Linked DNA regions of Homo sapiens: regions 1, 2, 3, 4, 5 and 6 are each reported to be linked to region 7. Evidence: microRNA targets listed by miRTarBase, many of them from high-throughput screens and not tested one by one. Region 7 holds a microRNA gene; each other region holds the end of a gene's coding sequence.
What was found. The annotated mature microRNA hsa-miR-3692-5p reads CCUGCUGGUCAGGAGUGGAUACUG and lies in region 7 at 2,761-2,784, shown strand. An mRNA with a match to its seed (bases 2 to 7 or 8) in the 3' UTR can be bound and repressed. Matches are read on the target gene's strand: a 7mer-m8 pairs with bases 2 to 8, a 7mer-A1 pairs with bases 2 to 7 and ends in A, and an 8mer does both.

Region 1: the mRNA of FER is a reported target of hsa-miR-3692-5p. Seed matches in the 3' UTR shown: 8mer at 487-494.
Region 2: miRTarBase lists ZBED3 as a target of hsa-miR-3692-5p. Seed matches in the 3' UTR shown: 7mer-m8 at 3,151-3,157.
Region 3: miRTarBase lists FFAR4 as a target of hsa-miR-3692-5p. Seed matches in the 3' UTR shown: 7mer-m8 at 3,181-3,187, 8mer at 2,486-2,493 and 7mer-m8 at 1,092-1,098.
Region 4: miRTarBase lists FKBP9 as a target of hsa-miR-3692-5p. Seed matches in the 3' UTR shown: 8mer at 988-995, 8mer at 1,000-1,007 and 7mer-m8 at 1,023-1,029.
Region 5: the mRNA of BBS1 is a reported target of hsa-miR-3692-5p. Seed matches in the 3' UTR shown: 7mer-m8 at 2,259-2,265.
Region 6: miRTarBase lists PTCD1 as a target of hsa-miR-3692-5p. Seed matches in the 3' UTR shown: 7mer-m8 at 3,660-3,666 and 7mer-m8 at 1,582-1,588.

Annotation. Positions count from the first base shown.
Region 1 is chr5:109,187,131-109,191,249 of GRCh38, forward strand. FER (FER tyrosine kinase) reads left to right here. Exons shown (of 20, transcript NM_005246.4): 20 at 303-4,119. The coding sequence ends at 445. Among named protein-coding and RNA genes, the nearest start is that of PJA2, 220 kb to the right of the region's middle.
Region 2 is chr5:77,073,599-77,077,696 of GRCh38, forward strand. It overlaps ZBED3 (zinc finger BED-type containing 3), which reads right to left. Exons shown (of 3, transcript NM_032367.4): 3 at 1-4,098. The coding sequence ends at 3,576. Among named protein-coding and RNA genes, the nearest start is that of SNORA47, 4.9 kb to the right of the region's middle. RefSeq lists a silencer at 3,840-4,098.
Region 3 is chr10:93,586,902-93,591,020 of GRCh38, reverse strand. FFAR4 (free fatty acid receptor 4) reads right to left here. Exons shown (of 3, transcript NM_001195755.2): 3 at 949-3,801. The coding sequence ends at 3,412. Among named protein-coding and RNA genes, the nearest start is that of RBP4, 12 kb to the left of the region's middle.
Region 4 is chr7:33,004,832-33,008,950 of GRCh38, forward strand. It overlaps FKBP9 (FKBP prolyl isomerase 9), which reads left to right. Exons shown (of 10, transcript NM_007270.5): 10 at 344-2,097. The coding sequence ends at 520. Among named protein-coding and RNA genes, the nearest start is that of FKBP9, 49 kb to the left of the region's middle.
Region 5 is chr11:66,531,505-66,535,612 of GRCh38, reverse strand. It overlaps BBS1 (Bardet-Biedl syndrome 1), which reads right to left. Exons shown (of 17, transcript NM_024649.5): 16 at 3,871-3,957; 17 at 2,015-3,662. The coding sequence ends at 3,576. It also overlaps a transcript of ZDHHC24 not described here. Among named protein-coding and RNA genes, the nearest start is that of ZDHHC24, 12 kb to the left of the region's middle. RefSeq lists an enhancer at 3,660-4,108.
Region 6 is chr7:99,416,131-99,420,249 of GRCh38, forward strand. PTCD1 (pentatricopeptide repeat domain 1) reads right to left here. Exons shown (of 8, transcript NM_015545.4): 8 at 609-4,019. The coding sequence ends at 3,837. BUD31 (BUD31 spliceosome associated protein) reads left to right here. Exons shown (of 6, transcript NM_003910.4): 4 at 8-130; 5 at 1,299-1,465; 6 at 3,261-3,486. The coding sequence ends at 3,311. It overlaps ATP5MF-PTCD1 (ATP5MF-PTCD1 readthrough), which reads right to left. Exons shown (of 9, transcript NM_001198879.2): 9 at 609-4,019. The coding sequence ends at 3,837. Among named protein-coding and RNA genes, the nearest start is that of MIR12119, 9.0 kb to the left of the region's middle.
Region 7 is chr6:157,526,377-157,530,495 of GRCh38, forward strand. MIR3692 (microRNA 3692) reads left to right here and starts at 2,756; the gene lies at 2,756-2,824. The region is part of intron 1 of ZDHHC14 (zDHHC palmitoyltransferase 14); the gene reads left to right.

The DNA of each region.
Region 1 (4,119 bases), not on the chromosome of region 7:
CTAATTCTGAAAGTGAATACTTAGAGCAACTAAAATATGCATTTGTATTGTATCTTACATCAGACTTTCTGAGAAATGAACAAATAAAAAATGTTCTTTGAATTAGAACTCTAAGACTCTGTAATATTGAATTCTGCATCACCTGTAGAAAATAAAAACTCAGCCTCCCCAGAAATGGATGTTTTGTTTCCATATAACTACAACATAAGGTACCAAAAGTTAATAACTGCATAATGCCCTGTGTGAACATTTTGTGTCTTACCTCCATTCTAAATTCTGTTCTCCTTCTCTTGGGTCTTCAGGATACCGGATGTCAGCTCCCCAGCACTGTCCAGAGGATATTTCCAAAATCATGATGAAGTGTTGGGATTATAAACCTGAAAATCGCCCTAAGTTCAGTGAACTTCAGAAAGAGCTCACTATCATCAAGAGAAAACTCACATAGTGACAGGATGGCGCCAAACTCAGCCTTCAGGACTCTGTCCTCCAGCAGAGTAACATTATTGTTCTCATTAACAATGAATTTATACCACATTACCTTCGACAGTCTTCTACCATTATTTTTTATTAACTGGGTGTTTTAAAAGTACGTTCCACTTGTAAAAAGTCAAAGGCAAATTTGTTAAAGAAATAGGCAGTCCTACCAAGGGCTTTCTTAGCTAACCATAGCAATCCTACCATTTCAGGCCATTGCAAATAGAAAAGCACAGGCTTCTAAGTGTGTGAAGGATAAAAGATCTATCCTATCCTTTTCACACCTTGTTTCTACTTCAGGCACAGTTTGTAGGCTGCCATCCTATGCCACAGACCCTACTCCGTTGGTGCTATAAACAGCATTGGTAATGCCATGTTTGCAGGACATGTTCCAACCACAGCTGGCTTTCACCTCTGCCAAAGCAGGATTATATTTGTAAACAAACAAACAGAATTTTATATTGGGAATTATTTGGACCTCCTGAGATTTTTCTTTTCTTTCTTGCCAGGTATAAGCCCAATGTAAGAATCATCATGCTCCTACATTATTTGTAAGGTTGTCATTTTCCTCCTCCTTTGTCTGGGCATCAGAAAACAATGCACGTAGGTCGGGCACGGTGGCTCACGCCTGTAATCCCAGGCATGTAATCTCATGCCTGGGATTACAGGCGTGAGCCACAGTGCCCAGCCCCCTCCCTCCTTTGGGAGGCTGAGGCAGGCGGATCACCTGAGGTCAGGAGTTCGAGACCAGCCTGGCTTGCATGGTGAAACCCTGTCTCTACCAAAAAAAAAAAAAGAAACACACACACAACGCATGAAACGTCGTCAAAGTTAGAGTTGAGGCAGTTGCTTTTCAAGGATGTACAGAGAGCTGTGAAGCAAGAAACAGATTTGAACAGGAGGGTGGGCTGGAGAACAGAGCAGCTAAAGAATGATTAACAGAGTAAAGAAGAAAGTGAAAATATAAAACCACCTTATCAGAGTTATGCCTTTCTAAACATCTAAACAAACAAACATTCACATATTCTATTCTAAAAACACATAATAATACATATTCTATTTTATGGTCTGAATTTACCAGAAAGGTCCTAAGAAAAGTTTCAGGAGTTCGTAGAGTCCTCGTAATGGCAACAAAAATTTTGAGAGAAACTGCAAAGCACAAATCCACAGAAATAACAGCATACTTTCAGTTAAGCATTTTCACCTTAGAGGGGGCATTCCAAAATGTAATTTCCTTTATTTGTACCAGTTTTTAGAGCTGTCAGAATTTCATGATTCTAGTTCACCAACACATTCACGTGTGTACATGCGCGTGCACACACACCACCAAGGTGCAAGACAGATGTGAATGAAGTAGACAGTCTAGAAGTCAGGTGAATATTAATGAGAAATATGACATAGGGACAGCCCTCCCATTTCTACTTCCACCTTCATTGACCATTATACTGCCCCCTGGACATTCTTACCATTAGCTGACAGGTATGCAAGCAGAGTGCTGAAGATGTCTCATGTGAATAAAATGTAACTCACTCACTCAGTTAAAACTAGGATTCTGTATCTTAACTCTTATCTAGGGAACTTACTTACTTACCCCATGATCTGTATATAGTTGCCTCTCAGGATAAATGCATATATAGAAGATGGTCATGCTCAGGGCTAAATATGTTCTGGAAGCCTTTTATAAGTTCTCAGGCCTGTGTCCTGGTAAACATTACCTTAGTGATTATTTGGTCTGCATTCATTGGAAGAGCTTAGGGATAGAAAATGCCTCCTGCCCTCTCCAGCTGTTTGCTGCCTGTACCATCGCACAGAACTCACACCAGTACTTTAGAGTATGAAAGATAATACTGAAGAGAAAAGTGACTTGTATCTAACATTTCAATCTCCTTGCAGATTTCATACATACTTAATGATTAGTACATTCAGACTAAAGGGAAATTTCTTTTGATGGCACGTACTATGGTAAATCAAAGCGCAAACTCAGAAGTGCTATGGTATTGAGGCACTTACCAACCTTCAAAAGTAAGAGTAAAATGGGATATTCCTACCCTTTTTTTTAGTATTTCTAAGTGAATCTCTGTAATATTCTTTGTCTGTTTAAAGAAAACAGCCTCCCATCTCATAGTGGCTTCATGCTAAGCTCTCAGCAAGGAGAGAGAATGATGGTTTTGGCTTTAGTTTTATGAACAAGACCTAAAGCTTAATCCTGACATTCTGGTGTTAAGAATGAACACAGCATTGATATTTCACTTATCCAGGCTGTTAGAATTTGCAGTTCACATCATTACTCTGTGCTTAAATTTAAAAAGCTTTTCAAAACATCGTGACATGTGTAGCATTTAAATTCCATTTTATTCTTTGTCCTAAAGCAGGCAGTGGTATAGTTCAGGATTAATAACTTATTGGGAGTCTCTCAGTCATATAGAATATTAAATTTAATATAGTCACATGCATTAAGAAAAACTTACGCAAACAGTTTTTCACTGTTAATTTTGTTGTGCTTGAAGCATAATTTATTCATCCCTTCTGTCACTGATAATTAATTATTGGAATTATATACTTTAGGAGGCTAATCCATGCCCAGGAAGCACGAACATACTGTTCAGAATGTGCAAGTTGATGTAGGGAAAGGAAGATTCAGAAATGTACAAAATCCTGTGATTTGTTTAGTAAGAAAAGAGTTGTAACCAAAATTTCTTCTGGTCCGGATGTAATTAGTCCAGTCACAAATCTTTGTGTTGTTAATGGATTATTCAAGATATATATATATATTCTTACTACTGCATAGTTCCTCTCATAAGTCCTTAAATTTATTAAAAGGGGGAGGTAAACACAAGCAGTCTGTGTCTCACTGGTCACTAAGGGGCCTTTATGAGACAGTTTAGGTTGTTCATCATTTCACAAGGAAAGAAATTTTTCACTGTTAAATTAACATTTATTACCAACATGTGAAACCTAAAATTAATTTTGCATTCCATGTAATCTAAGGCCAAAGCCAACATATTCTTTCTCTTCTGGGAAAATAAAATTGACAGGTTTTGTTTAAACTTCAGAAACTGAAGCTTTATTTCAGCCTGTCCTGCCATGAGGTCTCCAGTGAGAGGTCTCCAGTGAAAGGTCTCATGTAATTGTTTCTCTTTTATCTCCCAAATTTAATGTGGGCAATAAAATTCTCCTTTCGTAATTCACTGTTTTATTACAAATACGATATTACTGAAACATCTTATTAGCAGATAAGTATAGACCAGGAGCCTAACTGTGTTAGATATTTTCAGTGCACATTTCACAGTTGTTTTTCATTTTAGGATTATTTTGAGAAGAAAAAATGTTTTGTAATTGAAATAGTTTTAATTTCCTTTAAACCATAATTTGGTTTTTCTATCTATATTATATTCAGTTCAGTTTTCCCATATAACTTTTGTGAAGATTGGCTAGTACCACAAAATAACTATGGCTTCACAATACTAGTGTTAGATTATGTCAAGAAGAAAGTGTTTTAGTTACAACATACGCCACCCACTGAGGACCTTGTAGTGGGATAAACAAAAATTAAAATGCAACAATCCAAATAAATTATAATGTAACAATACAAATATCTGAATCATAAGTCACAGTTTTTCAGGGTTCTTTCAGTCACACCACTTT
Region 2 (4,098 bases), not on the chromosome of region 7:
CAGAATGGTTGATTGGCTTCAAACCAAACAGTCCAATAACTGACGCATTAAATCTTTATTGACTAAACAGCTTAAAAAATTACTACTATTTCCTTTTATTTGTTGTTGTGAATTTTACTCAGAATTAAAGATAAATGATTAGTAATTACAGGAAAACTAACTTGTAAAAATCTTAAAGACATTGAATGGGTTAATGTACTGAGCAGCTACGGAATGCAAGGCACTGTAGGAGTAGGGTGAGTATACTCCCCACAAGGGCTCAGGGTCAGGCAGGGGAGGTGAGATAAAAACCCACAGCCATACACTAGCTGGCCTGTCCTGAGGGTTGTGAGGCACAAAATGCTAGGAGACTAGAGAAGTAAGAAATGTCTTGACATGAGGAGAAATCAAGGAAAGCATGGTTTTAGAACATGTGTGGGATGTTTTTTGTATCGAGACTGAAGAGGCTTTTTAAAGTGGAGGGAAGGCAAACTGAGGCATAGAGATGCCAATACCAGGTCTTGTCAGGAAGAACAGAGTCCAATTTGGCTGCAGGATAGGGCATATGTAGGGGAGGGGATAAGACTGGCATGGGGGCAGAGGGGGACTTGAATGTCAGGTGACAGAGTCAAAGCTTGCACTCAAGTAGGTGATTGATAGGTGATCTTGGGGGCTTTTGAGCAGGAAGAGTGATAAATCAACATTGGCTTAGGACAATCCCTTTGGCTTTGGCGAAATTGTGACTCAGGTAAGGGACAGTTGGGGGAGACAAGGATGGGAAGATGCATGATAAATGGGCCCTGAGCTTGGCAGGCAACAGGAAGGCAGTGCAATGTTTTGTAGAAATAGACTTAGCAGAGCAGGCGCCCAGCATTCAGCGAGACCACAGATTCTTAGCCACTGTATGACTTGAAGGTGATACTAACTCCCCTGAACCTGTCTCATCTACAAAATGGGCATAGTAGCACCTATGTCATAGGGTTGCTTTATGGCAGGTAATTATTCTTGTAAAGCATTTAGCACAGCTCTGATGACACATGGGGAATGCTCAGTAAATATTAATGTCACTAATTCCAGTCAATTCCATTAACTGGAATTAATTAGTTGGAGTTAGGAAGGAAACAGGTGTCAGCTGGGTCGACTGAAGGAAGCAGAGATCTCAGGAAGCAGTACATGGTGGTACAGTGGGAGCATGGCATCTGTGGGGGAGACTGTCTGCAGTGGGATCCCACCTCTATTGCTGGCCAGCTGTGATCTTGTACAGGATACTTAACCCCTTTCTAGCTCAGTTTCTTTAGCTGTAAAGCCAGCGCAATGTTACCATGGAGCTGGTATGTGAAAGCAATGCATGTTAAGTGTGTAGTATGTGCCTGATACATTGTTAGTGCCCAGTAAATGTTAGTTATCAGGTGAGGGGTGGGATGTGGGGTTGAGTAGATTTGCCTCGTCCACTCATAGAGGCAGGATGTGCAAGGAGGGGTGGAGACATGCAGCAAGGGATTGGGCATGAAGGTTTTCTCCAGGCCCGGGGAGAACACTCGGCCTGGAGATATTCAGGAGTCCCTGGCCCAGAGGAGATTACAACTCTGCAGGGATATGAGCCACGAGTGGAGTGTAGACATAGGCCTAAGGAAGCAATCAGACACTTCCAGAATAGAGGACATTTGCTAAGACAGCTGGCCTGGATGCTTCAAAAAGTATCATGGGAAAATATGTTGGGGTTGTTGTAGACTGAAAGTGACTAGAGTTGAAACCAAAAGAATGTATGAACCTTGATGGGACCTGGTTGTTGTCGTTGTTTTTAAAGACAAACATTCTGGAGACAATTGTTGAATACTGATTAAGGGCTCTGTATTAGAGGCTATAAAGAAGTTACTGTTTATATTTTTAGGCATGATCATCTTAATGTAATCATGTAGAACGGTGTCTTTGTGCTCAGGAAATCTATGTGGTAATACTCAGGGGTCGAAATGTCATTCTATGTACACATGCATGGGGTGGAGAGAATAGTAAATCTGGCAAAATGTTAACAACTATTCAATCCAAGTGGAGAGTATGTATCTGAGTATTCATTGTGCTAGCCTTTCAACTTTTTCTGGATGTGTGGAATTTTTCAATATAAAAAAATAAGAAAAAAAAGAGGCCTATGGAAAAACTGGGAACCAGTATGCAACAGGAAAAGGAATTCTTTGAAGGAAAAACAGGATCCACCTACCAAGAGAGCAATTTCAAGGGAGAGATTAAGCAAAATGAAGGCTGCAAATAGATCATCATATTTGGTCACTGGGAGATTGTGGCAGCTTGGAAATAGTCTGGTGAAGCATAGAAAACTGACATGCACCCTAGAACTTAAAGTATTATATATACATATATATATATATATATATATGTATATGTATATATGTATATATATATGTATATATGTATATATATATGTATATATGTATATATATATGTATATATGTATATATATATATAATATATACACACATAAAGAAAAAAAGAAAAGAAAACTGACCCAGAGTGAGGGAGTAAAAACTGGGGAGGAAGGATAGGCAGCCAGGACTTGTTGGCCCTTCTGGGTTAAGTCTTTCTTTTCAGTAAGAAAGGGAGACTGCACATTGCTGAGGAAGAAGAGCCTGGGGGAAAGGGAGGGACTGAGACAGCGAAAGGGGGAATACTACAGGAGGAAAGACCCAGTAAACGTGGGAGAGGAATGGGATGGAAAATGACAGGTAGATGTGGCCTTAAGCGGAGGGATGCTTTCCCCTTCAGCCCAGAGGTGAGCACTATGACGACATGTGGGGAAGAAGCCCTCTTCCTAGTGACAAGGGGATGAGGTGATGTCTTGCTAAGGTGGCAGATGTGAGGCCTGAAAGTGGACATATGTGCCACACTTGTCATTAGGTCTGAAGCAAGGGAAGGATGGCCGAGGGGAGACAGAGTGCACCTGGTATTGGTTGAATAATATGGGCAGTAAAAAAGCGGGCTCTGGGACTGCCCCGATGAGGGCTAGAGATGATGCGGGTCTACAGCAGTCATGGAAACTAGAGGGGACGTCCCTCACCCACCCTTCAGAACTTGGTGTTGGGCAGATTATGCATTAGGAACTCTTTTTTTTTTTTTTTTGGGTAAAAAGCTTTCTCATTTCCACGCACCCTCCACCTTGGGCTGCTGGGTGTATAGGCACATGGTGTGATAAGTCTTTGGTATGGAATGAAGCTCTATCCTTTCAAAGTCACCAGGTTCGGGTTCCCAGCCCTAAGTGGCCATGGCACTGGGTGGTCTGGGTTCACGGGGCTCCTGGAGCTCTCGGGTGTCCCGTGTGCCACCCCAATTCCTTGCGTGCATGCCCACGAAAGGCCGCCCAGGCACCCCCGGTGACCCCATGGAAGTGAGTTTTGGTTCTGCTCTGGCTTCGAAGTGCTTCTCAAGCTGAAGCCTTAGGGTGTGGAAGATCCTACAGTTAGCTGGAGCTTCCGAGTGAGTAGCGGCTGCGGGCCTGGCTTCGGTTACGGCTTCGGTCCCAGCGGGGTCTGAAGGCATTGGCATTGGACGGAGAAGCGCTGTCCTGGGGTGGGGAAGTGGCCACACCCCTACAGGAGGACCTTTGTGATGACGCAGCCGTCCCTGTCACCCTCGGGGTCGTCCTTGAGCGGCGGCGGCGCAGCGGGGGCCCAGCCCAGGGCGCCCTCACGGCGGCTCACATCCCGCAGCCGCGCCTGCAGCGCCTCCCGCTCGGCCTGCAGTTCCCGGCGCGCCTGGGCCGCGGCGCGCTCTTCCTCCTGCAGCGCCCTCCGCCTCCGCTCCAGGGCGCGCTCGCCCTGCTCCACGGCCAGCTCGCGCCGCTCCAGCTCCCGCTCCCGCCGGCTGCCGCGCACGGCCAGCGCGCCCATCTGTTCCAGCAGGCGCGCCCAGTCGCCCTCGGGGGCCGCAGCGGGGCCGGGCGGCGGCGGGCAGGGCGCGGCAGGTGGGGAGCTCCCGGCGCCGCTGCTCTCCAGCTCCCGCCGGTGCGCGCTCCTCAGGTGCCTCCACAACGCCGAGGTCCCCGCGTGGAAGCCCGGGCCGCGGCCCACCTGCTCCCCGCACAGACGGCAGGTGGCCCAGTGGCCCGACGGA
Region 3 (4,119 bases), not on the chromosome of region 7:
TGCCTGATGGGCTGCAGTGAGGATTCAATTAGGCAATGTCCCTTAGAGCTCTGGGGAGCTGTGAAACCGGTGATGCCAGGCTGATGTCTATGAAATGCACTGGGAGTGAGGAAAGGGTCACAGATCTCCGCCTGGGTGTTGGAATATCCAGGGACCGTGGGAGGCTCCCGGGGGCCCCATGCTAGTGTTCTCCACCAAAGACAGAGGAGACAGGTGATGTGCATGGGAGAGCTTTGCCTTCCTCTCTCACGGAACCACAGGCTGTCAGAGCCTTGCTCCGCAGCTTCAGTTTGACAACCTCAGAGAACCATAATGATATAGGAGTTAAAAAGAAATTACTCGGGCAGATAGTGAGGGTATGGAAGTCCTTGGTAAGATTTTCCTTTTAATGAAAAGCAGCCCCTAAATCCTTTTCTAACAAAAAGCAGCTGTAAAATCGTGCTGCAGACATAGACAAGCAAGTTGGAAGCTTGCATGGGTGAATGCCAGCAGTTGTGTCCATTGGAATGTACTACCTAAGACTAAGCATGTTCAAAATGGCGGCTCCGTCTTCTCTTTTTGCCAGCTATGAGTGCAGTAAGGAGAAGACAAGATGGCCAAGTGGAAAGTCCATTTGCATAATCAGATTTGGGTGGGGTGGCCAGCCTTTCTCGTGCACTACGTAAACGTCACACCTGGTCAAACCAATCTGTGAGCCCTATGTAAATCAGACACCACCTCCTCAAGCCTGCCTATAAAATACGCTGTGGTCCACCACTTTTCCCTTTTCAGATGCCTCTGTCTCACGAGAGAGAGAGCTGCTCTCCTCTCTCCTTTCTTCTGCCTATTAAACATTCTGTTCCTTAACCCACCCACATATGTCCGTGTCCTTAATCCTCTTGGCGCAAGATGACAAACCCCGGTTATTTACCCCAGACAGCAATGCCGCTTCAATAAGATAGCCACACATCACTTCCAAAAACAGGTTTAATTGATCAAATCTATTAACTAAAGTGAGCAAAACATCTCTGTTCGTTTGTCTTCGAGCTTGTGATATCCATGAATCTGACTTCAGAAGCAAGCTGCTCCAGAAACTGCATAAGCAGTCACTACTGCTGGTGCTGATTTCCTCAGCAACAAAGATTTGTTGAACACCTACTATACACCAGGCCCCGTGCTGCTGTGCATTCCAGCCACTGGCCCAGCCTCCAAGTGGTGGAGTGACCCTGGGTTCGGTCTTTGGCTCTGGTTTCTCTCTATCTCTCCAAGGGATGTATTATAAAACCATAGGTCTATAAACACCATTTATATCTCCAAACAATGTGCATCTCCAGGCCCAAGCTCCACATCTCTGCATCCAACTGCCTATTCAATTTGGAAGTCTCACTGAGATTTCAAACTGATGAGCTCCAAATGAAACTCTTGGCTCCCCCCCCCCTAATCTTTGCCCAGGCCCCCCCATTTTTGTTGCCTGCTTCACCATCCAACCAATGACAGGCTAAAAAATCAGAGTATTCCCCTTGAGTTCTCCCTTTCCCTCACATTCTATCAATTCCATCCTTCCCATCAATAAATCATCTTTGTTTTACCTTCCCAAGGTATATTTACAAGTCATTTCTCACAATCCCTCCCTAATGCCACTCACCTCCAAGGTCCCATCCCCATGTCACACTTCAGCAGCTGCCCAACTGGTCTCCATTTTCACTCATGCTCCTCAGAGTCTATTCCCTGCCCAGCAGCCAGGGTAATCTTTGCACACATTCATCAGGTCACGTCAGCCTCCAGTTGCCAACCTCCAGGGGCTTGGAGAACAGAATAAACTCCTAGGCCCTATGTGATCTAACCCTGCAATTTCTCTGGCCTCAACTGACAGGCCCCAGCCGGGTACCCCTCATCTCAGCATTAAAGGCAGTGCCTAGTGCAGAGGAGGCTCCATCAATAGTCGGCTTACGCCACTCTCCCTTCAAGCGTGTCAGCCTCCTTGCACTAACATCTCTTCTGTGTCCCTTCCCCCATTCACACAGGTGGCCCTTTCTTGTCGCTTACCTTTTGATCCAATTTGTCACTCCTCAGAAAGGTCTCCTTAGGCCCCTCCCCATCTGATCTAAATTCCCATCACTACCATAGCCCCCGTCCCATTTTCTTCACAGTGCTTATTCGCTCTGTGATGCTATACTATTTATTGACTTGTAGCCAGGCGTGGCGGCTCACGCCTGTAATCCCAGCTACTTGGGAGGCTGAGGCGGGAGGATTGCTTGAGCCAAGGCATTTGAGGCTTCAGGGAGCCGTGATTGTGCCGTTGCACTCCAGCCTGGGCATTGGAGCAAGACCCTCATCTCAAATATATAGGTATCTGTATATAGATATAGTTTATTGACTTTTATTTAGTTTTTCTGCCCCTGACTCGAAGGTAAGTTCCCTGAGAGAGGGCCATGGCTGTCTGGTTCACCACTGTATTCCTAGCACAAAGGACACTGTCTGCCATGGCTGGTGCTTAAGAGGCATCTCTGCTGGATGCGTCAGGAGTAAACCACTCCTGAACTCACTCTCAAACATTTCAGAGCCATCCTACTTTCTCTCTCATTTCATGATGCCGATTCTCTTAAAAGGGTCCATAGCATTTTTATAAATGAAAAAAAAAAAAAAGTAAGTCATCTTTAACTGTTCCTTAGAAATTCTTCAATTGCTCTTGACATCAACGAATGATCCTAAACCCTTGCGAGTCCAAGGTAGGGCACAGGGTGGCTGTGACCCTTCAGAGGAGAAATCTGCGTCCTGAATCGGTTCTAAGACTCACTTCAGAAACCACTATGGTGTGGCTTTATATGTAGGAGATGTGATTGCTGAACAGTCATAAATAAATATTTATTAAATTTGATCATATTACAAACACACTAAAAAAGTTCACATTTAAAAGGAACCCATAACAAATCTTTTTTTTTTTTTTTTTAAGATGGAGTTTCACTCTTGTTGCCCTGGTTGGAGTGCAATGGCACGATCTCGGCTCACTGCAACCTCTGCCTCCCAGGTTCAAGAGATTCTCCTGGTTCAGCCTCCCAAGTAGCTAGGATTACAGGTGCCCACCACCACTCCCAGCTAATTTTTTTTTTTATTTTTAGTAGAGACGGGGGTCTCACCATGTTGGTCAGGTTGGTCTCGAACTCCTGACCTCAGGTGATCCACCCACCTCAGCCTCCCAAACTGCTGGGATTACAGGCATGAACCACTGCACCTGGCCAACAAATCCTTTTATAAAGGGAAAATATTATGAAACTTGGTGATCACCCCTTAATTTACCGACGCTGTGGATGTCTATTTGCATAGGTTCATTTTCTTAAAGCAGGGTGCACTGATGGAGGGTACTGGAAATGAACTCTGTTTAAAAGCATGCCACAGCTCGCCAGGTGTGAGAAACTCGGCTATAAAGAAAAATTAGCCAGAAATAATCGACAAGTCATTTCTTTTGACAGATGTGTCTGTTAAAATGGCTCCCTTTTCTGGGAACCAGAAGCAGCAAAAAATTTTCTTCCACTCATTCCTGCACAGTGTCATGTTGTAGAGGATGGGGTTTAGGGCTGAATTAGCAAATGTGAAGGCCACCACCCAGAAGAAGAGGGACGGCCAGATGACCAGGTCTTGCTTGAAGTTCTGGATCAGGATGAGGAGGATGGTGATGATGATGGGGCTCCACATGATGAAGAAGGAGACCATGAGGAGGAAGAGGGTGCGGAAGAGCCGGAAGTCCTGCTGGGACACGCGGATCTGGTGGCTCTCCGAGTAGGCCAGGCTTACCGTGAGCCTCTTCCTTGATGCCTTTGTGATCTGTGGAAAACCAAAACAGGACTGGAGCCACAGGTGACCGAGGGTTGTTGGGGATTTTGAGTTAGGGGCCCAAGAGTTGGAATCTGCTATCCCCAAGGCACTGAAGCTGTGTGCCTCTGGGACTTTGTGTGCCCGAGCTTAGGATGTGCTGGAGAAATGGGACCCCGGCTGCACTCCTGAGAAATAAAGCAGAAAATCACCTACCTTCTAAACAGCGTTATGAGGGGAAGTGAAAAGCCTGAATTGGGTGGTCTACAAGAGGGACATCTTCCCTGTTATTTTTTTAAAAGAGATGTCTCTTTAATTGTTTGCAAGCAC
Region 4 (4,119 bases), not on the chromosome of region 7:
CCTGCATCCAAGAATGTTCTTACAGTCTTGGGTGGTCTTGGGGGTCAGCCTTTGGTGGGGAACCAACTTGGGAGAAGGAATAGCTCTGACGGCTGCTGGGTATTGGCTACCTGAATAATAAGGGCTCTTGGAGTCATTTAGCACAAGGGTTTTTCACCTGCATTTAGAGAAAAAAAACAAAACACAGATCATAGGTCATATAGCTGCCAAAAAGATCTTGTCTGTGTTGGTAGCCCAGACTCAAGTTCCAGCCCTGTCACCCCCAGACTGCTCTGTTTCTGGCCCCAGGCCTGGCGTTCATGGCGGCTGAACTCATGGTCTTTCCTGTCCCCTTCTTTTCCAGTTCTCAGAGTACATTCACGCCCAGGTGGCATCTGGCAAAGGGAAACTCGCTCCTGGCTTTGATGCTGAGCTGATTGTGAAGAATATGTTCACCAACCAGGACCGGAATGGAGATGGGAAGGTCACAGCCGAGGAATTTAAACTCAAAGACCAGGAAGCCAAACACGATGAACTCTAAACCTGGCATGAACCAGATGGTGCCAGGGAGTACGTGACACCAAGCCACCTGTGTGGCAAGACGTGCAGTGAGGGTGCAAGGGTCTCTCAGAAGTTGCATCATTAGCCAGTAGTAGGTGGGTCACATAGTACCTGGTGTACACATCGGGGTGGGTTGATATATGGGGTGAGAAGTTTGGGCTGATCGCCAGTGATAGTAAACAAAATCTGTGCAGAGGGCCTTAGCATGGGATGTGTCCAGTATTGAAAAGGCTGCACTGCCAACCATGATTTGTGAGCCTTCTGGGAAATTTTGTTATTAAAGGAATATATAGTGTCAGACGGAAGTTATAATCATCTTGGAGGAACCATAAGAAAAGGTGTCCAGGGTATCTATATAAAGAGGGTTAAATTTTTTTTTAACTTGCTGGTTAAAACATTTTAGAAATATTCTAGAGATGGGCAGGAGAGTCAAAGGGCTTGCTTGCCCCAGCAGAGTTCCCAGCAGACAGCCATGGCTCTTCCCAGCAGCCTGTGCAAATTCTGATGATGGCCCCACCCCCGCACACGCACACGCACATCATGCTTTTCCAGCTCATCACACCCCGCCCCACTATGGGCCTACCATTAATAGTGTATAACTTGGAGGTTAAAAGAGCCTTTTGGACAGAAAACTGGGCCAGGAAAAGGCATCTCAGACCACAAATAGAGAATTTGATTCCTCATTTGCCACATAAGTCATCTGCTTAGCTTTTCCTTTCCTTTTTTTTTTTTTTTTTTTTTCTGGAGGCAGAGTCTCCCTTTGTCGCCAGGCTGGAGTGCAGTGGTGCCATCTCGGCTCACTGCAGCACTGTCTCGGCTCACTGCAGCCTCCGCCTCCCGTATTCAAGCGATTCTCCTGTCTCAGCCTCCTGAGTAGCTGGGACTACAGGTGTGCACCACCACGCCCGGCTAATTTTTGTATTTTTAGTAGAGACGGGGTTTCACTGTGTTGGCCAGGATGGTCTCAATCTCGACCTCGTGATCCGCCCACCTTGGCCTCCCAAAGTGTTGGGATTACAGGCGTGACTCACCATGCCCAGCCACTTAGTTTTTTCTTATTCCCACCTTTCTATCCCATAGAACACTCTTTTTTATCTTCCCTGAACCATATTGATGAGATAAATAGGGCTGGGGGCTGGGCCCCGCTGGTCACTCAACAGAGTATTTCCCTTGGCCGAGATGGAAGTTTTGTCCCAATAGATGAGCTGCTGAGCATCAACAAGGTGACATTTTTCTGCTGCCCATTTGTGTCCTGGAGACGGTGGTACCCTGAAGGCAGAGGCCAGCTGCCGCAAGACAGCAATGACAGTCCACCTGCCGACCTGATTCCTGCATCATGGAATAACCACATGGCTACCTTCTATCCTCTGTTCCCAAATGGTGGTGGCACTTATCCTGAAGTCGTCAATGATTTCCCTTTGAAACTACTTTATTTTACTAATTTAAACTATTTTGTACTGATGTAGCCCTGAGGTAGTTCATGAAAATGCTGTGCACTCATTCCATGGAATAAATGTTGGAAAGCTGATCTTTTCTGATATAAAATGTTGAATGATATTATCTGGTTTTCTGATATTTTATTGGAAGGCTGAAGACCTATGAGAATGCACCATGCAGTCAGAATCCCCTTGATGAAAACAGCAGGACTTCACTGCATTTACTGAGGGAGCGCACTCTACTTATAGGGAGTGTCAGTCAGGGTCCTGGCCCTCCTCTGGGACTCCTGAAGAGAAGCTAAGGAAAGGACTGTTTAGAGGGGTGTGGGCGAGGCTGGGGGAACTGAGGCTGTTGAGTGCCAGTGACAGCAGTGTTGGCCACCGCAGGAGGCTGCTACCACCAGGGCCTGAGAGCTCAAGAGGAGGCAGTGGGAGCAGCACAGGAAGGGCTACCTGGAGGCGTAACAGAGGGATGCAGCCAGCTGCATCTGACAGTGCGGCTGACACTGCAGCAGAGCGAGGGACAAACGCCCCATCCCCTCTGTGCCCCCATTCTCTGATGCCTGCCACTGGCTCCCATTAGTGGAACCATGTTGGAAGCCAGAGGGTAAGAGGAGCTCAGAGACTGGAGTTCTCAGAAGTCAGCCTCTTGAGTGCAGAGAAAGGTGGAGAATGAATCTGAGGTAGGGATGGGGTGGGTGGGAGCAAATGGAGAATTACTGGCACATGTATAGAGAAACTGTGTGTGTGTGTGGTGCAATTATATATTTAAAAGCAATTATTTTAATATATATTAATAAACATAAAATATATGTATTATATATACATAAAGTTGCTGTTAAAAAGCAAATGTTGGCCATGTGCAGTGGCTCATGTCTGTAATCCCAGCAGTTTGGGAGGCTGAGATGGGTGGATCATTTGAGGTTCAGGAGTTCAAGACCAGCCTGGCCAACATGGTGAAAACTCTTCTATACTAAAAATACAAAAAAAAAATTAGCCGGGCATGGTGATGGGCGCCTGTAATCCCAGCTGCTCAGGAGGCTGAGGCAGGAAAATTGCTTGAACCCAGGAGGCGGAGGCTGCAGTAAGCTGAGATGGCACCACTGCACTCCAGCCTGGGAGACAGAGCAAGACTATGTCTCAAAAAAAAAAATTTTTTTTTTTTTTGCTTCTTGCTAAGTTGAATTGGGCTTTGGAATGCATTTGACTTCATTAGCCTTACCCGCCTTATGAAAAGAAAAACCTTGTGCTTATCCTCTACCGCAGATTTTTATTTGCCTATTTGAATTTCTTCACTGGCTGTTTTCTGTGATGGTGGAGACAGACGGGCTGAATCAGAAATAAGTTTCTTGGCCAGGGGCAGTGGTTCATGCCTGTGATCCCAGCATTCTGGGAGGCCAGGAATTTGAGATCAGCCTGGGTAATATAGCAAGACCCCATCTCTAAAAAAATTTTAAAAATTAGCTGGGCATGGTGGCATGTGCCTGTAGTCGCAGCTACTTGGGAGGCTGAGGAGGCAGGATTGCTTGAGCCCGGGAAATTAAGGCTGCAGTGATTTGTGATTGCACCGCTGCCCTCCAGCCTGCACAACAGAGCGAAACCCTGACTCTAAAGAAAAAAAGGACATGGACCTTAGAACTTCAGGAATGGAGAGAAGCTTTGGCCTGCTGAATTCTGCCTAGGCACTTCCATTCTTCCCGTTGCCGAGGAGGGCATTCAGTGATCAGGCGCGTTTATCTGTCTGCAAGGGGAAGCTGCTTAGCTGGCCCCACTTTATGCTATGGCTGCAACACTTGCTTCTATTTACATTATGGTTATGGGCTATAGTTCTGCCAACAAGGCTGTAAATACTAAATAAGGGGCCAAGTACAGGGTAGAGATGCCACACAGCAATTTTTGTTTTTGTTTTCTAAATCAGTTCTCACCTGAGACAGCACTTTTTTTTTCTTTTTTTGAGACAAGGTTTGTCACCCAGGCCGGAGTACAATTGTGCGATCACAGCTCACTGCAGCCTTGACCTCCTGGGCTTAAGCAATCCTCCCATCTCAGCCTCCTGAGTAGCTGGGACCACAGGCAGGTGCCACCAAGCCCAGATATTTTTAATGTTTTTTGCCGAGATGGGATCTCACTATGTTGCCCAGGG
Region 5 (4,108 bases), not on the chromosome of region 7:
TAAATTGGATTAATTCTTAAGTATCTGATATCGTATGCTATTATACATGCACTATCAAAATAGACTGTGAGCCTGGGCAACATAGTGAGACCCTGTCTCTGCAAAATACAAAATTAATGGGGGCTGGGCACTGTAATCCCACACTTTGGGAGGCTGAGGCGGGAGGATCACTTGAGGCCTGGCGTTTGAGACAAGCCTGGACAACATAGTGAGACCCTGTGTCTTAAAAAAAAAAAAAAAGCCTTGTGTGGTAGTGCGTCTGTAGTGTGGGGGATGGGGGTGGGCTGAGGTGGGACGATGGCTTGAGCTCAGCAGGTCGAGGCTGCAGTGAGCTGTGACCGTGCTTCTGCACTCCAGCCTGGGTGACAAGAGCTAGACTCTGTCTCAAAAAAACTAAAACAAAAACAAAAGTTGTGTCCAGGCCAGGTGTGGTGGCTCATGCCTGTAATCCCAGCACTTTGGGAGGCTGAGGCAGGCGGATCACCTGAGGTCAGGAATTCAAGGCCAGCTTGGCCAACATGGTAAAACCCTGTCTCTACTAAAAATACAAAAATTAGCCAGGTGCAGTGGTGCATGCCTGTAATCCCAGCTACTCGGGAGTCTGATGGAGGAGAATCACTTGAGCCCGGGAGGCAGAGGTTGCAGTGAGCCGAGATCACGCCAGCACACTCTAGCAGATCACGAGGTGAGGAGATCGAGACCATTCTGGCTAACACGGTGAAACGCTGTTTCTACTAAAAATACGAAAAATTAGCCGGGCATGGTGGCAGGCGCCTGTAGTCCCAGCTACTCGGGAGGCTGAGGCAAGAGAATGGTGTGAACCTGGGAGGTGATGCTTGCAGCGAGCCGAGACCGCGCCACTGCACTCCAGCCTGGGCGACACAGTGAGACTCCGTCTCAAAAAACAAATAATAAAATAAAATAAAATAAAATAAATGAAAAAAATCTTTAAAAACTCTAATGACTTTATTTTTTTTGGTAGGGACAGGGTCTCACCATGTTGCACAGGCTGGTCTCCAGCTTATGGGTTCAAGCGATCCTCCTGCCTTGGCTTCTCAAAGGGCTGGGATTACAAGTGTGAACCACTATACCCGGCCTCTAGTGACTTTTTTTTTTTTCTTTTCTTTTGAGACAGAGTTTCGCTTTTTTTTTTTTTTTTTTTTTTTTTTGAGACAGAGTTTCGCTCTTGCCCAGGCTAGAGTGGTGTAGTGGCGCGATCTTGGCTCACTACAACCTCCACCTTCCTGTTTCAAGCAATTCTCCTGCCTCAGCCTTCCAAGTAGCTGGGATTACACGCGCCTGCCACCATGCCTGGCTAGTTTTTGTATTTTTAGTAGAGATGGGGTTTCACCATGTTGGCCAGGCTGGTCTCGAACTCCTGGCCTTGTGATCTGCCTGCCTCGGCCTCCCAAAGTGCTGGGATTACACGTGTGAGCTACCACGCCCAGCCAGTTTCGCTCGTTTTGCCCAGGCTGGAGTGCAGTGGCACAATCTCAGCTCACTGCAACCTCCGCCTCCCGGGTTCAAGCGATTCTCCTGCCTCAGCCTCCCAAGTAGCTGGAACTACAGGTGTCTGCCACCACGCCTGGCTAATTTTTGTATTTTTAGTAGAGACAGGGTTTCACCATGTTGGCCGGGCTGGTCTCAAACTCCTGACCTCAGGTGGTCCGCCTGCCCCGGCCTCCCAAAGTGCTGGGATTACAGGCGTGAGCCACAGTGCCCAGCCTTCTGGCCATGACTTTTTAAAGAAGATATTTGAGGATATGTTTCACCAAATGAGGGTGAACTGAGAAATAGGAAGCCATCAGGCCCAGGAATCAGGATCTAGCCCAGGAGAGAGGCAAAGGCAATTTACCTGGAAAACAAACAGTCCTCAGTGAAGCAGGGGATGAAGGGAAGTGTCTAGAAAAAAGAGGAGCTGTCAGATGGTGGGGGAAGAATTAGCAATCAGTCCATCAGAAAACAAAGTAAATGAGAAACTCAGGGCAACTCATTAACTCCATTAAAAAGAAAGTACAAGGAAGGTAATTTAATTATAGTCCAACTCTTGGCTCCGCAGTTAACTTTCACATAGTAATAGAAATAGTAATCTGAGTATTTTTTAACCTAATAACTAGGGATGGGGGAGGGTTGCTGACAAAAGAGAGCTAAAGCCTCATGTATGACAACAGGGAGTCAACAGGTAATGTCTAAGATTGATATATCAAGCAAGAGTCATATAAGCACATTTTAAAAATAGCTGAATGAACTGGAAGTGACTGCTGGGTAGGGGAGCAGTACTAGAGAATGGGAGAGACTGTTTTCTTGTTACAAACTGTGTAATTCCACATTAGTAAGTGGGTATGTGTTTTTAAATAAGTATGTTTTAGAAAGACACCAATTCTCCTTGTCCTTAATGTTCACAATTTCTCTCTAGTGTGTGCACTGGGCACCCTGCACTGTTTCTTGCTTCATGTTGCTTTATGAACACTTACTGTCCTCATGGCACGGTTCATGTATTTCTTAGTGGTAGGTACATAATATTACATTATATAAACTTACATCAGGTGCTGGGCATATGTCTCCCATTTCATCCTCAGAAATAGCTATGACAAGAAAGGCCCCGCCTTTCCTGCTAATTCTCACGATGTGACCACTGCCCTGGGAACTTCCCACCCACATGACTGATTTGGGCTCCAGGATGTAGAAGGGCATCTATATGGGCAGTTCTGGACTTCTGCCTCCCGTGGCACTTCTCTGGAGCCCCAGAAACGCCTCTCCTGGTGCGCCTGGCCCTGGCTCTGCTCTGTCACACTCTGCCTTCCTCTCCTGGGCTTGCTTTCTGGGCATGAGCATCCCTGTCAGGAGCAGCTGCTGTGTGATCTTTAGGAGCTCTAGTGGGGCTGGAGCCACCAGCTCCCTGCGGGGCACCCTCTGCCTCCTGCACCCCCTTCTCCCTGAACAACCTTTGTGTGGCATCGTAGGCCTAAGACTGGCTAAGTCTAAGATTTCAGAGAAGTTTCCTGGGGAGAGGAGGGCTATTCCCTGGGTTTGCTCAGCTGACAAGGAGAGAGGAGAGCACGTATTTTGCCCGCAAGCTGAGTGGGCTGCAGCCCAGCCTCCGGAACTCCAGGGAGCAACAGGAGGCTCAATCTCACCCAAGAAGAGCTTCTGATTTCCCTGGCCAGGACTAGCCCAATTTTGGCCTTGGCCTGCAGCAGGAGATGAGTGATGTGCATGAGGGACGTGGCAGTGGAGAAAGGCTGGGCCTGTCCTGCTCAGCTCACTTTGACCGCTTCGGAGCTCTGATCTGAGCCCAGTATGGTTTCTGGAAAAGGCTGGGGAGGGGAGGGCGTAGTAGGACTTCAGTGGGACCATGCTGGGTTGGTGCTGTGGGAGGAGTTGAGCCGCCCTAGGTACTCACTAACCTGCTACTATAGGCCCAACAGTGGGGGTGGTGAGGAAGCGGGTGCTTAAGAGAGGGGAGACGAGCTGTCGCCCCAGCACACTGCTGCATGAGGAGTGGGCCTGGGGCCACTAAACCCGCCCAGTTCTCCCTGGCTGATTGTGCAGGGGCTTTCACAGCAGCTCAGGTCTCAGGCGGCCGCCAGCCCCTCGCTCCCAGGCATGTTGACGTGGGCACTCAGCAGGGGTGCACTTTGGCCTTCTCGAAGCACCAGCACCTATGGAGGAGTGGCCATGGCAGCAGGGGGCATACACCCCTGACCCCTTGCCTGGTCTGCGCTGGCCCTAATGACAGGCCACAGGGCTCCACTGTGCAGATACCCCCACCCCCACCCAGGAGCCCCCTAAGGTCTTTGTTGGCACTCACCCTTACTGTCCTCCCCAGGGTCCTGCTCACCTTCCACGTGGTACAAGTGCGGGGCCTACCTTGATGATGTCTGAGATGCCCTTGTTACTGAGACTCTCCACAAAGGTCTCCAGGGGGTAGTTGAGCCCTGGCACCAGCAAGGGTACCTAAGTTTGGGGACAAAGAAGTAAGGAAACCAGCCCTCGTGCCAGTGTTTGGCATATTCCAGTGCATTCAGGCCCGCAGTCTCCACTGAGCCTCAGCACCCCTGCAGGGTGGGCAGGACAACTGCTGGGTGGAGGAGGATGCAGGTGTGGT
Region 6 (4,119 bases), not on the chromosome of region 7:
TCCCCAGCTGAAACAGAACCGCATGAGGGAAAGAGGAAAGTGGAATCTCTGTGGCCCATCTTCAGGATCCACCACCAGAAAACCCGCTACATCTTCGACCTCTTTTACAAGCGGAAAGCCATCAGCAGAGGTAATTAGTCAGTCTCTCTTGGACTTTGAAGCTCGCGTCACTTTTGGAGTTACTGAACTAACCACAATCCTTATTCTCGCAACCTGTGCAAGTCATGGTTTTTCTTACCACGAAAATTAGGGGGAGCCAACGTTGGCTGAGTTTTGTGTGTGTGTTTGTTTTTTGTTTGTTTGTTTTGAGATGGAGTCTCACTCTGTCACCCAGGCTGGAGTGCAGTGGCGCAATCTTGGCTCACTGCAAGCTCCACTTCCTGGGTTCAAGCGATTCTCCTGTCTCAGCTCCCAAGTAGCTGGGATTACAGGCACCTGCCACCACACCTGGCCAATTTTTGTATTTTTAGTAAAGATGGGGTTTCACCATATTGGTCAGGCTGATCTTGAACTCCTGACCTCAGGTGATTCACCCGACTCGGTCTCCCAAAGTGCTGGAATTATAGGCGTGGTCCACCGCTCTTGGCTTTTTTTTTTTTTTTTTTTTTGAAACAGGGTCTTGCTCTGTTCCACAGGCTGGAGTGCAGTGGTGCAATGATGGCTCACTGCAGCCTCAACCTTCTGGGCTCAAGGGATCCTCTCACCTCAACCTCCTGAGTAGCTGTGACTACAGGTGTGCACCACCACACCCAGCTAATTTTTAAATTTTTTGTGGAGATGGGCCCTTGGCCCAGGCTGGTTTCTTAACTCAAATGATCCTCTGGCGTTGGCTTCCAAAAGTGCTGGGATTACAGGTGTGAGGCACCTTGCCTGGCCTAAGTACTTTTTTTTTTTGTTCCTCCTCCAAGGACTGTCCCGTTGCAATACTGAATGCCTTTTTTTTTTTGAGATGGAGTTTCGCTGTCACCCAGGCTGGAGTCCAGTGGCACGACCTCAGGTCACTACAACCTCCGCCTCCTGGGTTCAAGTGATTCTCCTGCCTCAGCCTCCTAAGTAGCTGGGATTACAGCTGCTACCACGCCCGAGTAATTTTTGTATTTTTAGTAGAGACGGGGTTTTACCATGTTGGCCGGGCTGGTCCTGAACTCCTGACCTCAGGTGATCCGCCTGCCTCGGCCTCCCAAAGTGCTGGGATTACAGGTGTGAGCCACTGCACCCGGCCTGAATGCTTTTTTTGATCAAGGGTGGGGAAGGTTTTTAGACCATGGCCTGATGCTCTTTCCCCATCTTTTTGACAGAACTCTATGAATATTGTATTAAAGAAGGCTATGCAGACAAAAACCTGATTGCAAAATGGAAAAAGCAAGGATATGAGAACTTGTGCTGCCTGCGGTGCATTCAGACACGGGACACCAACTTCGGGACGAACTGCATCTGCCGCGTGCCCAAAAGCAAGCTGGAAGTGGTAATGTCTGACACTCAAGCTTGGTGTTGTTTTCAGCTCAAAATTCTGCCTTAGTCGACTGCAAGGGATCTTATGTTATTTGGTTGGGCTGGAATGTCGTTTTGTCCCTGGATGTCCTGCTGGCTCTCCCTCGTGGGAGTGGGTCCCTGTATTCAGGAATCCATGTGAGGCAGCGTGTGGCTGTGTGTTTGTTAGGTCTGGGGTCAATCTCAACTCCACTTTTGGGCAAATTACTGAACCCCTTTCCTCACTTAGGAAATGGTGGTGGGGAGCCCTAATCCCAAGGTGGTGGCAGGGTGACATCAGGGAAGGACAACCAGTGAGTTCCTGTCCCTTTCAGTCCTCACAGTGATACTTTAACATTACCATCACTATCTTTCCCGCCCCCCCAAGACGGAGTCTTGCTTTGTCGCCCAGGCTGGAGTGCAGTGATGCCATCTTGGCTCACTGCAACCTCCACCTCCCGGGTTCAAGCGGTTCTCCTGCCTCATCCTCCTGAGTAGCTGGGACTACAGGCATGCACCACCACGCCTGGCTAATTTTGTATTTTTAGTAGAGACGGGGTTTCTCAATGTTGCTCAGGCTGGTCTCGAACTCCCGACCTCAGGTGATCCACCCGCCTCAGCCTCCCAAAGTGCCGGGATTACAGGCATGAGCTACTGCGCCCAGCCCACTGTGTTTCTTCTTTCAGAACTTTCTGTTCCAAGTACCACTCCTAGGCCAGGCGCCTCAGGAGTGGTGCTGAGGGACAGGAGCTGAGCTCCATCCGGTTCCAAGCCCCTCTGAAAGGCAGCTGTGGCCCGAGGCAGAGTCACAGCAGTGGCCGCTCAGTGCAGCCCCTCAGCACAGTTGTTGGCCCCACCGCCCATCTGCCAGCCTGGCCTTCTTTTCCCCAGCTCCACACAGGGGCCTCTTCACATGAGTCCCCTTTATGCTGCAGTGAGACTGACAATGGAGAGCTGTGGCTGGATGCTGAGGACTTGGGTACTGAGCAGTGGGGGCGAGCAAGGGCCGCCTCCCCGACGGAAGACTGGGGTGTTGGTTTTCTGATGGAGGCAGGGACAGGTGGCAGAGTGGCAGAAGCCCCCTTCCTCTGAGTGCCCAGATTCCACAAGGAGTCCAGGTCAGGGGCTGGTGGGCTGGGGTGCTGCTTCAGCCCTGTGGCCAAAACAGCCCGCTGTAGACTTACCTGGGTTTCACCAGAGGATCCTGTTTACTTAAACTATGGTCTTGTTCTTCCAAAAAAAGAACTTGAAAAAGTAAAATAAACACAAGCCACTGTTCTAGGGCTTTCTGGCTGGCCAAGTGTTGGGCCGCACCAGGCCTGGGGGACAAGACCCTTCTTTCTGGGGGGCTCTGGGCCAGAAGGGTGTGACTCAAGTGCATAGTCTCCTGCCCTCTTCCCCCACCAGAGTGTACCAGCCCAGAGGCCCCCCTGAAGTCCCCAAACAGTAGCAGAGCCACGTCTGCTCATCGCAGGGTCTGTCATGCTCACTTAGCAGAATAACGAGACTCATTCACACCGATTTCTTTTTCTTGATTGGCAAACGTGTGTTGGATTTGCAGAACATATTATAAATAGACATACAGATGTAACCTCGGTGTCAACAGCAGCTGGTTCTACCTTCATGAGGGAGCCAAATTTTCCCTGTCCAGAGCTGTCAAGGAAGGGTTTCTGAGGTGTGTCCCTATATGGCATGGTGGCAGGTCCTTCGTGGGAGGGTTGCCACATATGTGAGTGTGCAGGGGCGAGCGTGGCGCAGTGGCATCGTCTCACTGTCCTCCTCCGTTGCAGGGCCGCATCATCGAGTGCACACACTGTGGCTGTCGTGGCTGCTCTGGCTGAGGCTGGCGCGCTCCACCCTGGACTCTGGACTTCGCAGGTTCCTGCCTGTCACGCCACCCCCTTCCTGGGAGCAGCGAGCAGTGCCCCAGGCCCGAGTTGGAGCACGGTCTCTATGGGGAAGGCTTCGCTGTCTATCAGCTGTGATTTGTAAAAATAAAATCTTTAAATCTCTCGAGCCCCACGTCTCTTCTTTCAGAGCATCGGCCTATGGAACCCGGCGGGGCGGCCCAGGCCCCAGGGACCAGATGCCCCAGCCCCCTTGTGGTGTGTGAGGTGACACACAAAGGTAGCTGGAGCTGGAAGTCCCGTGAAGGTGACACGCAAAGGTGGCTGGAGCTGCACTTGGACCTGCTGGGAGCACAGGCACCTTGGGCCTAGTGTGTGTCCTCACCAACACCTGTGACACGCTGCGGCTGTTCCTCAGGGCCTGGCTCTTCCCCCAGGCAGGAGGTGACACCAGCTCACTTGTCCTGGGGCTCCCACAGAGCACTGGGGGCCGAGCACATTGTTCCAGCTGTGCTCCCATCACCTGCCCCCAAGGGCACATCCGTCATCAGCCTCCTTGCCGGTGTCCTGGTCCCCCTGGGGCTTGGTCCGGAACTTCTGCCAGGGGTGCGGGGTTTCCTCTGCGGGCATCACTGTCAGCCACTGCTTGTAATAGGCTCGGAAGCCGTCAATCTTCTCCAGGTAGGTGTTCTTCCCTTGGTACTAGAATTAGAAAAGTGAGGCTAGAATCACTCCTGTTACCTACAGCTAATCCCAAACCTCGGCAGCTGGCTCAGGCCTCAGGGAAGCTGGTGGCTGCCAT
Region 7 (4,119 bases):
GAGGCCTTCCCACAACACCACGACCCTCTTCTGGTGGCCTCTGTCCCCATCTCCCAGATTATCCTGGTATGGAAGTGAGTCAGGTTCTTGTCTTAAACGTTGGTCTACTCGGTCTTGACAAGGTAAAGTTCTGTAGACTCCAGACAAAGCTAGGGATAGGATAGTACCTCTCTTGTATCTCTTCTAGAACCTTCTTTTCACTCTCTCATTTAGCCTTGGGTTGTTTTTCTCTTTCACACACGAGTGTCTTCACATTTGGGAGTCTTGCCCACCCTCAAGCTCGTGGGTTAGGAAGGGGCTTCCCTACATGGCCCTACGTCTGTGCTAGTCTCAGGGTGGCCTCTGTGCTCCTGCCTACTTCAGCGACTGTGGGAACCCATCTTCTCTGAATGGACTGACACACGTGCGCCAGGGCTCGGCTGAGAAGGCTGAAGGGCAGTGTGGACAGCCAGATTATTCACCAACCGCTGGACCAGGGACCTGGGTAGATGTTAATTTTTATTTGCTGGCTCATAGAGAGAGGTTCTAGGGATGTGGGGAGAGGGGCCGGGGCAGTGGATGGTGGCCGGGAGCACTGAAGGACTTGGGGCAGCATCTTTAGCAGCTGGCCTCAGAGTGTGCTTCTGAATAGGTACTTGATTACGTACCTCCCCTCCTAAGAGTAGTAGTTTATAATACTGTTGGGGTCCAGGACCCCTTTGAGAATCTATGGATCCTCCCACACAATGTGAAACCATGGCCGTAGGTAAGGCCAACGTTCTCTTCTATCGCTGCAAGCTGGTGACCCTCAGCTGAGCCACCCTGCAACTGGGTGCCTGAAAGCAGATTACACCAGCCGGGGGGCCATGGCTGCATCAGTGCCCCCATCTCCTACCAGACTTGGGCACCTCCCATCGACTCCAGGAGCTCCCCAGCTCCTGTTTCTACTCTGAAGGAGAGGCTGCATTCTCAGCTCATGTGGCGAACAGGAATAGTTGATATTCCTTTGCTCAACTGACCTGTTTTCCTATTTTCCCACCCAGATTTTCCATTCAAAAATCTCTTCAAAAAAGTGCTTTGCAGAGCTTGCTCTTATAGTCAGACAATATTGAAGTCCTTTCATCTTGCACCATGCAGCCTCAGAGTCTCCACCCAGGGGAGAGTAAGAGTCAAAACCTCAACTGATGGAAACTTCTGGTAGAAAAAGCCTTCCAGAACTGCCCAGAGTAAGCACTACAGTCACGAGGTTTTGCCACAGAGCGTATAGGCTCAGCTAGAGCATTTTCAAGCTGTTTTTCTGTGGCCTTGCTTGGTGGACCTCTGCTTTTTGACCTCAAGTTTCACAAGTGCTTTAAACATGAAGCAGTGTTTTCTTGGCAGCCATGTAACGGTCTCTCAGGAAGTTGTTTCTGGAAATGGAAAGACTGTTCTCAGAACTTGACAGTTCTTTAGGGCTCCAGTTATTCTGAATGTTGAAGCCAACTGGACAATGTATGACGCAAGCCTAAGAGGGATAGGGATGTAGCTGTAGGAGGGGCTTTCTGATCCTTCTCTCTCTCCATTGTATCACTCTGCAGTTTCCCTGTTGATTCTCCAACTTTGCCATCTGCTTGGCAAAATTCAAGAAAGGTGGCACTTATTTAATTGATTGTAGCTTTCATGGCAGTCACACCTTCCAAGCCTTCCATCAGGCCAGCCAGGCATGATTTCCTTTGTTTCAGTCCCTCTTGGTGTTCTCTAATTAAATATGCTTTTTCCAGATGTTTCTCCACCGTATTCTTTAAGGTTGTTTCCACCATTTTTCCCTAGATCTAATGTCCATTATTTTGCCTTTTGCCCTTCTCTTTTTAGTAATCAGTTAATAATCGTGTTTGCCATGGGGAAGTCCTCAGGAATACTTCTGTTGTATTTCAAAATGAGCTGAACAGTTTTTTTGTTGTTGTTGTTTTTTAATCTCAGAAGTGTGTGGCTTAAAAGAAAAGTAAAGAAATGATATGAAAGTTTAACCATAGATGAATATACTTGGAAAAGCACAAGTAGATGAAGACTGGGGATGGGAGTGGGCATTAATCAATTAATTTAAAAAGCACGATAGGGTGGGCGCAGTGGCTCACACCTGTAATCCCAGCACTTTGGGAGGCTGAGGCGGGCAGATCACGAGGTCAGGAGATCGAGACCATCCTGGCTAACATGGTGAAACCCTGTCTCTACTAAAAATACAAAGAAATTAGCCAGGCGTGGTGGCAGGTGCCTGTAGTCCCAGCTACTCGGGAGGTTGAGGCAGGAGAATGGCAAAAACCCGGGAGGCGGAGCTTGTAGTGAGCCGAGGTCGCACCACTGCACTCCAGACTGGGCGACAGAGCAAGACTTCATCTCAAAAAAATAAAATAAAATAAAATAAAATAATTAAAAAGCACAATTAGATGAAGACTGGGGGTGAGAGTGGGCATTAATTAATTAATTAAAAAAGCACAATTAGATGAAGACTGGGGGTGGGAGTGGGCATTAATTAATTAATTTAAAAAGCACAATTAGATGAAGACTGGGGGTGGGAGTGGGCATTAATTAATTAATTATAAAAGCATAATTAGATGAAGACTGGGGGTGGGAGTGGGCATTAATTCCTCAACAGCACATGGTATTTTTCAGGTTTCTCCCAATGAGTTCAAAGAGTTTCATTGAAAGTATATCCTTGTAGTTGCTAGTGTCTAGGAGACACACTCAGACTTCCAGTTTTACTCAGCACCTACCACCTGTACTCTTCTGAGGTTCTTTGCCATTCCTGCTGGTCAGGAGTGGATACTGGAGCAATAGATACAGTTCCACACTGACACTGCAGAAGTGGAGATCTCTGGAGTCTCTGCAACCCCACCCTCTCTTCACAGGGAGCAAGTTACTTCTTGAGTATAACCTGGGAATTTTAGAAAGTTTATCTTTTTTCATAAATGAAAGTTTATGTTTTAGCATTGTACTGGTCAGAATCCTCCAGTATTTAAGCAAAACTAACCAGTACGGTCTTTGTTTAGTATACATGTATTTTGCAATAACAGGAGCAGTCATCACCATTTAGTGTCAAGCTTGATTGACAGGGCCCCTGGGAATCTGTGGTTTCTGTTGTGTAGAAACCACAGAGCTTGTTATTCTTCAACTGGAATTGGGAAGCGGAGCCCAAGAGAAATGTTCTTGACCTTCAGTCACTAAGGCGTTACTACCAGACTGCTGGCAATCCATCAATGAGCGACTTTGTCACCCAAGACTCCGAGCTTGTCTTCTCCCCAGACTGGACAAGGCACCTTCACGCAGAATAGTTTCAGGTTTCACTGTGTTCTTAATTACATTTAATGAGGATCATTGAGATCCTTATAAAAAGGTGAAAACAGGTACAGCTGTTATTGTATTCCACTAAGAAAATGTGTAGAGTGCAAAACAGAAGTGTAGGCCTCATTGTGGTACAATTGAGAGACCATGCCTTGGGCCCATGGGCTTTGATGGCGGCCACATCTGATTGACTTCTGGTTATGAAACTTATTAGCTAAACCAGGCTCAAAGTAATGAACCTCTTATAAGTCTTATCAGTCAAATTAATGAACCTTAGTTTCCTCATCTGTGAGATGGTCTCAGTAATACCAATGTCATAGACAATTAGCTGTGTACATTTCTGTAGACATTATATGAAATGTTATATGTGAAACTGCCTGCAATATAGGTACTCAATCAAAAAAATGTGAATTTTCATTTGCTCCCTGCAGTCTTACTATCTGGCTGCCTGTTACTTTGAAAACCATGTGTATGAAACAGTAACAGGCTACCTAAAAAGAAAAAAAGAAAAAAGAAAATGATGTGGGACCACATCTGTGTGTCTAGCAGGCATGGACCTTCCCTCTGGATCTGTTTGTTCTGACCTTGTCTTCTAATTGAGCTGGATAATTACATGGTAGGAACTCTCCCCAACATCAGGGCCGAGAAATGCTGTCACCATGTTTTAATGCAAAGGCACTTTGCCAAGGATAATAGTCGATACCACGGGCATTGTTTTAGGTGAGATAAAGGAATCATCTGTGAATGAATGCTGTGTCCCTTTAGAGAAGGAAAAAATGAATCGGCAGCCCCAACAGCAACCCAATATCCAAAGACTTTCAG